2 separate regions of the Homo sapiens genome follow, and region 1 is linked to region 2. Evidence: fine-mapped expression QTL. Tissue or cell type: monocytes. Region 2 holds a variant in brackets; the other region holds the start of a gene. All regions are shown on one strand. Distances are from middle to middle.

Evidence for each region. PIP is the estimated chance that this variant, and not a neighbour inherited with it, causes the effect.
Region 1: it holds the start of CALCRL, and the variant in region 2 is fine-mapped to the expression of CALCRL in monocytes (TOPMed, PIP 0.95).

What each region holds. Positions count from the first base shown.
Region 1 is chr2:187,444,673-187,452,867 of GRCh38, forward strand. CALCRL (calcitonin receptor like receptor) reads right to left here and starts at 3,580. Exons shown (of 15, transcript NM_005795.6): 1 at 3,367-3,580. The region is part of intron 2 of CALCRL-AS1 (CALCRL and TFPI antisense RNA 1); the gene reads left to right.
Region 2 is chr2:187,341,951-187,350,145 of GRCh38, forward strand. CALCRL (calcitonin receptor like receptor) reads right to left here. Exons shown (of 15, transcript NM_005795.6): 15 at 14-4,449. The coding sequence ends at 4,234. The region is part of intron 2 of CALCRL-AS1 (CALCRL and TFPI antisense RNA 1); the gene reads left to right. Among named protein-coding and RNA genes, the nearest start is that of CALCRL, 100 kb to the right of the region's middle. The variant C/T (reference allele first, on the strand shown) is at 4,766.

The DNA.
Region 1 (8,195 bases), 100 kb after region 2:
CTAACTCAGTTCACAGGCAGTGATACTATTTTATATTTTTGTAAGAAGAAGTAAGACCTTATTATGTCCTTAAAAATTGAATACATTTCTTCTCTTTTTTGTAATATAGCTTATTATAATTAAATTAATTTGATTTTAAGATTATTCAAATAAGGAAAAATGCAGAGATTAATTGACCTAATCTAATTTACATGGTCCATGTGAATATATGGGAAAAGGATAGATCCATCTGGTTAGAATGTAGACTTGTATTTCTGGTAAGTTTTTATTTTCCACCTATTTGCATCATAATATTTTTGTATATTAAACGAGAAGATGTCTTGAAATAATTTGTAATCCAGTATGGTACATGTACTTTGTCAGAAAAATAGAACATACCTGAGAAATTATGAATGTTTATAGTTTACCCATGGATTTGAAAACCAGATACAGATAAATGTTTTAAATAGCTGTGTACCATTTGTCTATCTTAAGCGTATTCTCCAATATTCTGATTAAGTCAAAACTAAGATACGTTACACACTTGACTCTCATAAGAGCGTCTTTCATTAACACCCTTGCAATGATAGCGCTTGTGTTTATGGTTTAATAGCTTCTCTGAATGCCAAGCATAAGATACGCAATAAAGCAAAAGATTTTAAATACTATTTCTTGAACATATTTGTATTGTGAAAAGTCGATACTGTAATCATTATATCTCCAAAACCAGAATTATTTGATAAAGCTGTATTAAAAGTCATATATAGAGTATGAAATAAATTTTGTTTAGTGAATAAGTTTTTGATCCTTTAAAGATTATTATATTTTTTCTATAAAGATCTAGAACAATCTTTTAAAATTAAGTTACTATCAAACTTTTGCCATGTAGATAAAATTGGTAGCAAAATATTTTTACAATGTTTCCAAATATGATCTAGTTAGAAATATATAATGATGCTATTAACTGAAATTCAGTTAGTGTTTATGTGTTTATCAAATACTTTGTCCACATTAATCTGTAAAGCAAACAAGGTAATCATTTTACCTTTATATTATTTTCAATTTTTTATGAAATTTTATTTCTGTTATGCATGAAAAAATAGTATAATATGTGCAGGTGAACATAAATATTCTTACAAATATGCTAAGTATTGTCTTCATTTAAAATTCATTACATGTTCGGAGTCACCAGTGAGAAAACCATATGAATCTTGCCCATTCATTTAAAATAATTTTTAAAATTACAGACCCAGTATTATTTTAAACAATGTTTTTGTTATTCCAATTTTTCAAAGTGAATGAACAGTTTCATATATTATAAAAATCTACATATTTTAACTTTTAGTATAATGCTTTGGTATGTAAGATAGAAAAAAAATCTTGTAACAATAATCAAAAACATTATCTCTTTAAGAAATAGAATATTTCAGGTAAAACATATTTCAGCTCACATTATTCACATACTATTTCAATTCTATGTTTCATTTTACATATTTAGCATTGACTGTAGGCTCAATGCATTGATTTTATGATGCTACAAGGAAACATCTTCTAGCAAAGTAAATTCATTTCTTTATGGCTAAAAGCATGCATTGATATTCTGATATTTTCTTATCATTAAAGAAAGCACATTTTGAATACAATAATATGAATTTTTATTTCAAACTTCCAGTTATGTCCTCAAATATTTCCTTTGGCTAATGACCTTCAATGTTCATCGCCTAGTGTTTTTCAAAAGTATTTTTGGAAAACAAAGATTATAAACCATACTGTTAGTAAACTCATAAAAATTTAATCAAATTATACAAGAAAATTATGGGTTTGGGACTAGCAATTAAACAAAAATTAAGGAAGTTTGGAGAGTTTCTCATTATAAAATATGATCATAATATAATACCTCCTAAGAAAATAATCTGAATTAAAAATAATGTTGTTTTAATTTTTGTTACTAACCCACGTCATTGGGTTAGTAAATGTGTTGTTTCCACTTTCTCCCCCATTTATATAATGGCTAAAGTCACATTCTAAAAACACTTTTCCCATTTCTACACATGTGTCAGGGAACTCAGTACAACTGAAGATTGAAAAGAGAGAGAAATCAGCCATGATACTCTTAAAGAATCACAAATCTAAGAATTAATTTAAATTTTCATTATATTGAGGAATTTGTGGAAAAATTGAGTTGTAAATTACTGAGGAGTTACTCAGGATGTTTGTAGTCTATTATTAATGTGCCAGATATAAGTGATTAAGTACAGGATGCTTCCAATGCAGGACATCTTGGAAAGTATAATTGCATTTAGGTAAGAAAATATATAACTTAAAAATCATATCTATCAACATCATTTAAAATTTGACATCAAACTTTCTCCAGCAACAAATTTGTGATATATCTACACAAACAATTTATTAAGCAGACATTAGTTTCTTAAATTGTTCAGGACAGTCTGTACTATCGGAATGAGCATTAACAGATGTTTTATCCAACATTTCAGTAAGTTCCATCCTGGAAATTCTTTTTTAATAAATACTTTAATTTCTTTGTTTAATCGTCTAATATACTTCTTTGGGAAAGCTGTCACGTTTCTTTATCCACAGATATCGTGGTATCACACCCCCCTCCAAAAGCTTGCAGAGGGGAACCAGTCAAGTTGAAGTATTCTCTTAAAGATTTCAAAATTAAGAATTGTTTTAAAAATCTACATTTCCTAAACTCTAGGTTTTTTTTTTTCTTTGTAGCCGACACCATGATCCAAATAAAGAGCAAACAGTTCAGGGTTAGCAGAAGAGAGATTTAAACACATCTGGCAACAATGAACACAAAAATTAGTTCAGTAGTTACAGATATATGTGTAAATAAAGGTGAAAGGCAAATAAAAGCAAATGTAATAAATACAAAGTGATTACTTTTCAAAACTCTGCATTATGATCAACCACAGAGTAAGTGAGACTCCGAGACCCATTAAGTAGTTATTCTTTCACCTCTTTCTTACAGCTGATAACATGGAAAGTTTAAAGACCCTTCCGGGGGGAGAAATGTTTTCCAGTTGTCAAGATTCAAGCTTAGCTAATATTAGAGCTAATTTTAAAAGACATTGTTCTGTGATTAAGGTATTTGTTCAGAAATATGTCTTTTAATCCATTTAGATTTTTAATACTTGCTAAATTTATTTTCTAGAATACCATGGTAAACAATATTATCTAGTAGTATTAGATTTTGTATTCATGTTGGGGTAGTAGGCTGTATTTTCTCTAGCATGTGAAATAAGTGAGACTATGTTTCAACATTATTTCAGTGCTATCTACTAAATTCTATAATAGAAACATTGCCAAACTATATGAGAATACTACTTAGAATAAATATATTTATTTTGAATGTGCACTTACCCAGTCCAGCTCTTAAGGAAATTCTTTGTGAAATATTCTCAGGATGGAACTTTACTTTCTGAGATTCCGCAGAAGAGATTTACCCACAAGCAAGGTGGGAAAGAGTGAAAGCTTTGCAATGTGATCCTGCAATTAGGATGAGATTCAGTTAGCAGAGCTTGATGGTCCTAAAGCAGGAGGTGACACTCTCTGCTGGAGAGAGAGAGGTTGTTCTGAGTAGATTGTAAGTGTTGTCAGATTGTAAGTGATCAGCAGCAGAAGGGAAACATCAGAGCTTCCTGTTACATCACTCTGACCCCGCCTGCAGTTAGTGTTAGGTTACTTTCTTTCTCAAATAGCATACCCCAGGAAAGCAGCACTCCTTTCTTATTGTGAGACAAGAGCAAGAAGCAGCCTGAACAGAGAGAGATCATAGGCTGTGTGAATACATTGTTACCAGTAAAAAGCTGGCTGGCTTTCACCTTGACTGAGTTCTGTTAGAACTTGCCAAACAAGCTACTTGTGATTTGAAGGAAATCTGAATATAGTATTCTGCTCAAAGAATCAAAGGAGTTAGGCGTGTGTGTGTGTGTGTGTGTGTGTGTGTGTGTGTGTGTGTTGAATTATAGCTTACAAAGTATCCAGGAAAAAAAATCTAACAAATCTGTGTTCATAGCACAACACAGAAAAAAAAATTAACTGTATTCATCATAACTGGTTTTGTGATTTGGCTCTTCTTAATTTGGAGCTCTGCTAATTGGGTGCTGTTCCTCCATCAGTTCCTAAGTGCAGTTCCTAATCAGTTAATTAGATCAAGAAACTTTATCCTGCAGTTTTTAAATCTTTTATTTTTTCCTTTACCTTCTTCATAAGAACATGAGTGTATGTGTTATAAATTCAGGTTGTGTATGTGTGTGTATAGAGTGTTTCTTTTATAATATATAAGTATATATATTTGACAAAATAGCCTTTTGAATAATTCATAATTTTAAAATTATTGCACACATTTAAAAATATTTGGTATAATTATGTTATTTATAATATAAAATAATTTATACCACAATATTTGTAAGTCAATATAATCTTAAAGAAAATATAGATGTTGTAAACATAATATTATAAAATAATATAAATACAAAGGATACTTTATTTCTTAGACAAAATTTCATCTCAAAGCATAGTTTTTCCTGAATATGTTTAATACATCATTGGATATGATCAGGGGAAAATGTAAATTTAAAATGCTTTTATCATTTTTATAATTTGGTAAATGTTCGATATGAAGCAATAATTATAATCCCTATAACCTAAACAGCACTAAAAGTCACTTAATTTATCAGGGCATAAATTTTCTCATCTATAAACTAGAAGAGATAGATTTTATGTCTAAGGCTTTGAATCGACAAATTTCATAACATTTTGAAATAGATAAGATACGGTGAGGATCATTCAACTCTTAGTAAATTGTTAGTGCAATTCCAGGATAAAATGAGGTGCCATACACCTTGTAGGCAGACAAAGGAGGTAAAGGCAAAATAAATTCAGGAATATCATGTTTTTAAAGCAGGGTGCTCATGTTGACATTTTTATTGTCTGAATTAGTGGAAGAAAATGTTTATACAATCTTTGATTTTAAGACCAGTGAGATCAATATTGATTACAAAATACAGACATATAAAAAATAGATATACTTTCATCTCTATAATTATGGTTAATAGAAAAGACTTGTAAGAAACTGAGTTACACTGGTGAACCGGTTCTGATACTGTCTGGTGTGATCTTGACAAAGCTTTTTAGGCTTCATGTTCCCATCTTGAAATTCAGAGAAAAACAAATACTAGATTTAATATGAAAGTAATAATGGGTCATGTCTTCTCATCTTCCATGCTAAGTGTAATATATGAATCCTATAAAGAGATTAATATATAGTTTTTGAATTTAATTAAATCATGGAAAACTAAAACTTTTCCCAATATGTTTATAAAAGCATTGATATTTTCGTCTTTCCAAAGATTCATTTTTCTTTCTTTCCTTCCTTCCTTCCTTCCTTCTTTCTTTCTTGATGGAGTTTTTGCTCTTGTTGCACAGGCTGGAGTGCAATGACGCAATCTCAGCTCACTGCAACCTCCACCTCCCGGGTTCAAGCAATTCTCCTGCCTCAACCTCCCAAGTAGCTGGGATTACAGGCGCCCGCCACCACACCCAGCTAACATTTTGTATTTTTTTGTAGAGACAGGGTTTCACTATGTTGGCCAGACTGGTCTGAAACTCCTGACCTAAGGTGACCCGCCCACCTTGGTCTCCCAAAGTGCTGGGATTACAGACATGAGCCCCTGCGCCTGGTGAGATTCATTGATTTCATTTGCCCAATACTAGTAAGGTCTACTGAAGGAAAAAAATTCATGTTTTGAGCTCATGTCATAAGACCCTTAATCCAATGCTCTTTCTCTTCTACTCTCTATCAAGTGCTATACTTTATGGGGTGTCTAGTAGAAGTTGTATCATTTATATTTAAGTTGACGTACACATGGGCCCATGGCTGTAGTCCATGAAGACTCCTTGATAAATTTTATTAATATCATCTTTAATTCTTATTTAGACATAACAGGAAAATTGCATCCTAGTAATCCTCAAGAGCTGCCATTTTATAAACTTCAGAAAAAATAAATGGTACAAGGACTTCCAGGAAGGCATTCAGGGTATTCTAAGTTATGTAGGAGCAAGTGATAAGATAGATCATAAAAACTTCTCTAATACCTACTGAAACATGAAGGCAAATGTTTGGAAAACTGTAGCAGAGCTAAATGAAAACATTTCAATAATCAATGAAGCAATTTTGAGCCAACGTGGCATTATATGGATTTATATATTATAATCTTTCTTCAGAAGACATTAAAGCCACTTGCAATAATTTAATTAGTAGTGACCAAATTTGTATTTTGAGCTAGGTAATGTGCTAACTGTGTTTTAGTGAGATAAGTAAAAATAGAATGTTCCCTGCTATCTAGTCCTTTAATGAACAGATTGACTAGCACATGAGAAGTCAAGGGCCAAATTCTGTGAAATTAGCAACTGATGCTGCTAACATAGAATCTAGAGGTAATGATGCAGAGCACTGCAATAAGGTTTTCTGTAGAAGTGAGGAGTGGTGTATAAGTGTAGAAATATATACATGTAATGATGGACAGTCACACATTTTCATTTTAGCATCCTACATGCAGGATTTGTGCTTTTATTTGTGCTCACACATAAGGCTCACAAGCGACCTTTTCTTCCAATAGGGGATACTAGTTACTATGTCAAATGCAAGTTGACTCAAAATTAGGAGTAGGCTAACTCCAAGTTTCTGGGCTACTGTTTATATTGAATATGTTAGTTAAACCAGACCAAAATGTGGTTTGACAAATTTAATTTTCTACTGACCAAACTGACCACTTATTTTGAATTTGTATGGATACTGCCTTGGAGCATAATTCTTGCCACAAGAACAAACAAAATAAAGCAGAACACTTTTACAGGAAATATATTAAGGACAGACTTTCCCTAGTGAGAGTGCAAGAACAAGTCAAAAGAAAGACTTTTAAAATAATTATTCTGAAGTTTTAAAAGTTATTATTTTATGTTAATAATTCTTCTGTGTTCTTAATTGTCTGAAAGCAATTACTTATACTTGGTGATAATTTATGCAGTCAGCAATATTATATATAACTTGCCTTATGATAAATGCACCAATAATTTGAGGAGAAACACATAAACTTTACATCAGAAGCTTATATGTTTAAAAGCTTTACATTAAAAAACTACTTCTAGCAAGGAAATAAGTTGACCCAACCTTTTATTATTTTACCTAGCAATTGCTGTTAGCACTTTTCAAGTTGCTTTTCAAAACAAAAATAAATTGCATTTAGTAAAAGAATCTGGGTACAATGTCTGGGACATGAGAGTGAATATGCTATTATCTATTACTAAAACCAAAGGGCCGTTTTTCACTTTAATTGGGCACATAGCTATCATTTTAAAGAAGATTACAATATTATTTTAAAAATAGTTACTATGAATAAGAATTTGGAAGGTGCAGAAAACTATGTTTGAAATGAACAGTATATATATCAGGTCAGATATACAGAAATGTATACCAGGTTAATATACAGATAAATAAAACTATTTTATAGCCTATATGTAGAGTTTCTTTCAGTATTTAATAATGTATTTTCTCAAGAAAGCCAAGTAACATAAAAAATAATTGGCCAAACATTTGCCTATTTTAAAAATTCTTATATCCTGATGGATTTAGATCTTCCTGCGAACTTAGTATTTTCTTACAGATATTCATGAGTGTTGGAGGGGTGGCTATTGCTAGAATAAAGTGCTAGTACTGGCTAGTGAGCTATGTCATGGACTAATTCAAATGGATTTTTAAATCCAACAAAATTATAAATGCTTACTTTAAATGGGAGTACACAATGAACTTTCTGAGGGGAAATACCTTCAATAGAGTGATCATATGTCCTAGTTTTCTGGGGCAGTCCCAATTCATAATTTCAGGCTCAAAAATGCTCTGGTTTGAAGAAAAAAATATTATTCAGTATATGGTGAACTTAGCCATACTTATCAATAGAGCAATGACAAGTAGCACATAAATACTAAGAGTGTGTGAGTAATTTATTTGGGAAACCCAAATCTTCTTTCCAGAAGAGTTTAAAATAGTTCTTACTATTTCTAGGATGGTTTTAGTTAGCATCAAAAAAGATGCCCTTTTTAATTCTGGATATGCATTTAATGTGGATTTATTCTGAAATGCCTCTTATTTGCTAAATATCAATCTTGATTGTGAAAATAAAAGGTTTATT
Region 2 (8,195 bases):
TTGCAAACAAATGTTTATAGGTATATTATTTATAATAACCAAAAGGTAAAAGCAAAACAAACATATCCATCAACAGACAAATGAATAAATAAAATGTGGTATGTTCACCCAATGGAATAAAAGGAAACATTGATACATGCCAAAACATGAATGAATTTTAAAAACATAAGTGAAATCATTTAGTCACAAAAGGTCACATACTATATGATTACAATCATATGAAAGTCTAGAATAGGGAAATCTGTTGAGACAGAATGTAAATTAGTGATGTTTATAGCTGAAATGAAAGTAGAGATAGAGGGATAGAGAAGTGATGGCTAAAGGATACACTGTTTCTTCTCAAGGTCATAAAAATGTAATGAAATTGGTGATGGTAGCGTGTCTCTATGGATGTATTAAAATATACTCTACTAATATACTAAAAACTGCTTTGAATATGAAGTATTATATGATATGTCAAGTATATCTCAATGAAGCTGTTAAAAAGTGCACTATGGTTCTAGATTTGTAAAACCAACTTGAGGAGGTCTATATTGTAATTAACACTCTCATGTACCTATCTCAACAATAGGCCAAACCTTATTAAACTAGCAATATTTTTAATCAAGAATATTCTTTCTTTGAGATTAGTATAATCACAAGGAGGAGAGATTATAAGAAAAAAACACAAGTGTTTTAAATGGGCATTTTCTCCAGAAAACAGAAAATGATGTACATTATTATTGATCATAAAAATAAAAATTAGTTATTAAGTGGAATGCAACTGATTATTGCCCTAAGGATAGAGTGGTTTTGCACTTATTTATAAATTTATTTCAACATTTTTAATATTCTCATATAGTGTGATATTTTGAATTCTCCTTTGAATTTTTGTAACATCTTACTTGTTCCTTCATTAATTAATGAGTTAAACGAAATCTTTGAAACATTTTCATTTTATATTTGTGTGAGAGCCATGAATATGCCCTCTTTAAAAATTACCTTTAAATACTTATTTTTCTTTCTAATATTTAAACAAAACTACAAAATGAAATATAGTAGATAAAGGAGATGAATTTCTGAACATTTTCTTATTTTGAGACATCCTTTTTCTTCTTTCAGCATAAGAAGGAGTTTGCATCCATTGTAGTATAGTTGGATTTTTTTAGTTTGAAAAACAAATCATGACTTTTTCTTAATTGGTTTATTGAATTCATTTACTGGTTTACTGAAGACTTTAAAGAGGGCAAAAGATATATTTTGTTAAGAGATTTGTTAATTTTGAGAAGTATCCCATTGATTACTGTAAGAATTATGTTTATAAATTAGATTATTTGGCACTGTAGTAAATATCAGTGAAAATAAACTTTAACTCATAACTTTAATATTTTCATACAATCAAAAAATAGAGATATACTCTAGGCATAACATAAATTGTTATAATTGATCAGAATATCTTGAATATATTTTTACAGATAACTAGTGGTTTCTACTAGCAGATTAAAACCAAGAGAAAATTAAAAGTAAGTTCACATTTAAAAAAAATTATAAGCAATAAATACAGCACTACAGCCACCACTAATTCTATATACATTGGATTACATTTAAACAAACACTGCATTCCAGAATGAATATTTTATGAATAAATGCATTGGAAATTAACTTTAGGAAATAAAATGACAAATTAGAATTTAGAAAATTAAAATATGACTTTCACAAGTAATCACAGTAAAATGCAGATCTACATTTTAAAAGCTAGAAATTTCCCCAAATTTATTTTTTTGACAGCAAAGAAGTTTGCTTTAAAAAAAGTGTCAGATTTACTTTGCTTTATGAGTATGATACAAAGATATTAAGTAGCATTTAGCTTTTGAGAAATCTAACATTTAAAACTATTCTAAAAATATATGGGTACAAAACTAACAGTGATTAATCATGAATGACTGCTACGCCTCAAGACTCTACAACAGACAAACCCTGGCTATAAAATAAATCTGATCTAGAATTAATATTATAAAAGCACAACAAAAATACTTGAAAATTACATGTTTATTTTAATATAATCTCTGATCATTCAACATTTTTTACTGTCACTTCTACTGTCAAGATGGTTGAGAGTTGACAGTTTGTCTAGAAGAAGGCTGATATATGTCAACATGGTCAGCAAAGGATTTAAATATGGGTCTTTGAATAATAAATAGCTAATAATTGAGTTTATTAAAATGAATTTTTGTATAATTTAGGCAGTTGAAGGTCTAGAACAGCCTGCGTTCCTTTCTATGGCAGCTTGCTATGAAATTCATGTTTCAAACAAAACAATACTTTTTCATGCATAGATAAATTATAAATGTACTGACCAGACCATTCTATATGTTAATTCTTACGAATTTAGATAATTTGTCTTAGCAATTTGAAATAAGTTCTGAACTCACCATCTATTGACATATTGACAGCTTAAGAAACAACTTATGATGAGTAATTTGTTTCATCCATTTTAATCAGATTGACACACTTAAAAAACAGATACCCATGACTTTTCCCAAAATTGACTTTTACTAATTGAAGTCATTCTTGTTCTTTAGAGATTTCAGCGGAAAATAACATTAGAGAAACTGAATCCCATGCAAATTTCACTTTAATTCATTAGCAAGGTTTTCTTCTATCTTTATTTAATAAAGTCTGACAATAATTCAGTAAGATCTGACAATAATTTTTTCTCAATGATATATTCAAGTATTTCCCTAATTTGTATTATATACAGTAGCTCTATTAAAATATTAAAGCATTGTATATGGTATATATAGTATCCTTCTAGTTTTTTATATTTCTTGAATAGCCTGGGACATTTCCAAAGCTATATATCTTCACATAGTAAAAGTCAGTAAAGTAATATTTTAATGGGGTAAAATCTATAAAAGTAGCAGATTGGTATTTATCACAGTAGTTGTTTAAAATTTCTGGATTAGAATGTGAGTTCATTGTCAAAATGAAAAAAGAAATATGTCAAACACACCTATTATTAAGGTATGAGTTATCAAAACAAATATATTCAATAAAATAGTGACCTTGTGTTTTTAAAATAAATATATCTTATGATAGATGTTTCTGTTCTCTTAGTTCTCAAACAGACTTCTGATGCTGGCATCTGGTTGTCTTTAAAATATTTACCAAATATAGCATTCCAGACTCTATTTTATTTAAAAAATCAGCCCAGATACAGTATCAGATATTAACATACACACATTGTTGCATTATATATTTGCTTTAAAAATTACATAGGTTGTATGTATTTGATTTGAGACTATAAAATAAAATAATGGAGTATTTACAAGCTCATTTTTCACAATTTCTTTTTACAAAATTCCAAGAAAATAAGAAATCCTTCATTGATTTTCTTTATATAAAATGATTGCTAATTTGTTTATACAGTAGAAATGGAAGGGACAAAATTTATATTTACAGCTAGGAATTCCCTCCCACTGTTTGGTAAGACAGGAAGAGGTTGACAAGGTGTTTTGTAGCATCAACTAAGATGTTTTCCTAATGATATAGAAGTAGGATTGCATATTATACATCCTGTTCATCCAGTTTCCACAATGGATATGCCACAAGATATAACTGATGTGTCAGCAAATGAGTAGATCATAACAATTGTACTCAGTTGCTTTTCATAGAGAAAAGAAAGCCAGCAGGGATAATTCACTTCTGGTATTGTCCATTTGAGAGGGTAGTTACAAAAAGGACTACGGCACTCTGGGCAAAAAAAAAGTCAACTGCCCCAATCAAGATGGGATAAAGAGTTTTAAAACTAAAAGCTAATTTTCCCTTCATGTTTATAGACCTTAGCTAGGTCTCTTGGGGCAATAAGGGTAGAATCATGCCCAACATGTATGTTTAGTTTTACAGCCATTTGTTTGTGAATTCATGCAATGGTGTGCTGGAACTGGCTTACACCAGCTCAGAAAAGTTGATTGTGCTTTTCTCCAATTCCACACTTGGTGATGTCAGGTTAGTAGCGTCACATCAGGCATAGTGGGAGTATTTACTGACAAACATTACAAACCAGGATTTCTTTTTTCCCACATAGAGCTGGATGTTACACTCTTATCAACACACTACTAATTTCATGTGAAGGCTCTTCTTTATGACATTCAAAAAGTCATTTAATATTGAAGTCTTCTGGCTACAGAGTCATGGGTCCAAGTCCTTGAGTTAGGAGAAGCACAAAACAGTGAGACAACCATCCTTCTATTTTCAATTATATAAATTTTCTGGTTTTAAGAGAACATTTTCAATATCATGGATGCTTTTTCCATTTAAGTGTTCACTAGGACAGTCATGACTATAACCTGGACCATCACTGATTGTTGACACTGTGTAAGACGCACTACGAAGAGCTTCTGAGTTGGAAAAGCTGTTTCCAAATTGGATTTTGTATTGATTCCAGTTTCTTCTCAGAATTGCTTGAACCTATCAATCAAAAGGAAAACAGAAAGAACAAGAACAACCCATTAATTGAAATGAAGACACTGTTTTTGAAGCACAATTAAATAGGTCTTGGAGAAGAGCTTTTTTAAAAAAAGTTATGTTAATCAGTGAATAATATAGCTTCATTTTCTTAATTTAAAAAATTAAGTGTACCATCTTCACATTAGGAAATGTATTACAATTACATTGTACTTTACATTCCATTAATATTTTTCATGGCATGTTTTGTCTTCAAAGCTTTTATAATTCATATGTATTTATTGTTGCCAAACAAATAGGTAATCTGGACCCCCATTTA[C/T]AAGATTTCATGTGCAACATTGAGTTTTATATTAATGTCTTTATTAATAGAATGAGAAGACAATTCGTGACAGGATAAGCGAAAGATACACAAAAGAAAAGAAGTTAGGATACGAAGAATACAAATCAGCAGCAGCAGCAGCAGGGCAGTAGCAGCAACCTTTGTTTCTGAGTGACTCCCATATGCCAGAAATTGTGCTACATTCTAAAAAAGGGAGCATGATATTTGTCTTCATGGAGCTTACTACATAGAGGAAAGAAAAGTGTTGAACAAATAATTATAAATCTGGTGAATATTGTGAAAAATAAATTTAGGAATGTAACCACTCCATTTTTATATATTTGAATCCTCTTCTGCTGAATAAATTTGCAGTTTAATGACTTCCTTCCCCTCTGTTTGAAGCTAGAGATCAGGGGTAGGTGGGTCCTATACAGTAAAATATTGGTCATAATGGAATGTAAGGCACAAGAGTGAATTTTCTTCATTGTCAGTCAATGGGCACAAATGAGAACATTTAAATACATCTCTAGCTCAAGTACGTTGAGGACTTTTCCATGTCTGATGAGTGAGCACACTGGCTTGGAGCAGCCTGCTTTTAGGTTATGAATGTGTTAGCCAAATCCTTGTGACCCGATCTATATCTGCCCAGAGTGGGTTTGCTTTGAATGGTCTTCCCCAAGCTCTCTATTGCTCTTTGGCTCTTTCAGTGCTTTTCCAAAGGGAATCTGAGCATCTCACAGCAATTTTCTGGTAATTCATTTTCTACGTACTGAGGTATAATTGTTTAACTTTCTACTACTTATATAGAATTCCTCAACTTTCTCTTCACTATATCCATGTATACAAATCAATATTAAATCTTTAAAAAGGGCTTACTTCTCTCTTGTTATTTCCTAGTCTAATGGATTAAAACACACACACACACACATACACACACACACAAAACCTCAATTCCTCCAATTACAAACATTCTATAGAAAATAGGTGTTCCAGGATGTCTGCAGCTTTACAGGATACTTCAGAGTTCCTGTTAAAGTATCTTATAGTCTGTCACTTAAAATAAACTCAAAGTTTTATTGTCTCATTTCATGTAGGAAAAAAGAAGGAGCAAATATAAAGCCAACAATGTGTTTAGGTAAAATTAAATGAGGTATTAAAATTATCAGTTAATTTCACTCTACTATATAGTTCAAAAATTATATAATTAAAATGAAATAACTTCGTATTGAAAGTTACATTATGATGAAGTTCAGTAACTTCAGCCCTTTCAAGCTCAATTTAAAAAATATATGGTAACCATATCTGAAGAAAACAATTTATATTCATGTAAATATGCTTTGAAAATAAAAGCATTTATAAGGCAACAAATTTATTTATCTTGCAAAAATTAAACTTTCCTCTCAATTTAGTAATATAATTCTAAATCCTCCGTATAAAATATCTAAATTCAGATAATTTAAAAATAACATCTGCATATGTAACAACCTCAAGATCATGAGCAAACTACAAATTGAATGGCTTCAGATTGTGAATTTTAAATACATATTCAGAGATTCAAAATAAAAATGACCATTGACCAATTATCTAGATACATCTGATGAGAAATATTTTTGATCCTTATTTTTTGTTTCATAAACTTCTCCTAATTTTGTTACTAAATGCTGAATTGGTTGAGTATGTAATCAATATAGTTTCTGGTTGAGGGGAAGTGGCATATAGCTTTGTATAAAAAATTCTATATAAAGTATGAGAAAAAGCTGAGAGGAAGTAATATCTTAGCTGTGAGTCTAGTACTTATAGTCTTAAAAAGGAAAGCTTAAATTCAATTTGGAAGGAAAATGGCTATTGAAATATATGACTGTTTGCTCTTAAAATATCTACTTTGATTAAGGTCATCACTCTATTTCTTCCTTGCAACTAAATCATCAGAAAAACCATAGAAAGCCAATTTCATGAACTGTGAGGTCTTACTATAGTTAAAAATAAACCTAATTAAAGATCCACAGGCCTTGTAGACTTGTTTGTTTATGTTATTTGCTCTAAGGATGTTACATTTTTCTTCTGCTTCCTCTAATACAATATCACACCTGTTAAATACGACATTAAAGCAGCTACTCTTAATAAACTTTTAATGAGAAAAAATCAGTAGGAGCAAATTTCCATTGTAAGGGAAGATAGCTGGGTGTTATTAAAGATATGAATGTTTTTATTGTTTTATGCATGACCATGTATAAGTAGTAAGGCAAATGTTTAGAATGTAACATTACAACTTTATATACCCATTAACACCCAATAAGGAACTAACTTTATACTCCTTAATGGGAATCAATTTAAAATATTTACGAAACTTTTATAAAAATTCTACGTAGTTCTCATGAAAGAATTTGGGTTTAATTGTCTGTCCTCAACAAAACTTTTTGCTCATCTTATGGAATATCTACCCTCAGGTGTTGTTAAATATAACCTTCTGATGACTAGAGTCCCTAGTTTATGATCACAGTGCACATTTTTGTCTGAGGGCACTAGGGATAAAATGAAAGTAATCCAAGCACTTGTCAAGCCACATTTATTTAACTAGTGAGAAATGCTAATAGCAAGACGTTAGCTAAAAAGTGCATAAAAGGTGGGAAAGAAAAAAACACAAATATTAAGCTAAAGGCAGGCATTTGACCTAATGTGGAAAACAAGAAGGAAACTAAGCCTGAGCAAATGATTTTAAGAAGTACATGACATAGTTGGAACAAAATGAATTTGGCAGTTGTTTCTTCATGTTATGAGAGTGGGAAAAAGTAAGAGGCATTGAGACAAAAAGGGAGGGATCACAGTATTTCTTAAGAAGAGAAATGAATCATACTGAAACAGGGATTGTATCTCCAGAGATGAAGAAAAGGAACAGATATTAGAAATGTTGTGAGGAACTGAAAGATTTGGGAACAACCTAGCTCAAACATTGTGTATTATTGTAATTTTCCAATGTCAAAATTTTCTCAATTTTAGGACATGGCAGAAGATCAAGGTTCTGTGTCCCTTTTGTTTACACAGATCGAGTGTAACAGGAGTGTTAGGCATTACTTTAGATATTCCCTGGGCACTCTTTCTAAATAAAAGAGCCAATTTGGGATTTTGATCCAAAATGATTAATGTTCCTGTTGGCACATGTGTTTTTGAAAATAAGTGATTTGACAAATCAAATAATAAGTATACTGAGAATCTCATGAAGTGGGGCATGGTGCTAAAAACTTTATCTTTCTTAGCTTGTATTTATTTTTCTGAGACCTGTGTAGAGAACTTGCTTTAATTTCCCTTTAAGAAAGATAGACACAGGCTCCTGAAATTTGCCAGCATTTGCCAAAATATCACAGCCAAGATGAAAAGTAGCATCTTTGGTGATTAAATGCATTGCTGTGTTTATTCTACACTGCCTCCTGTT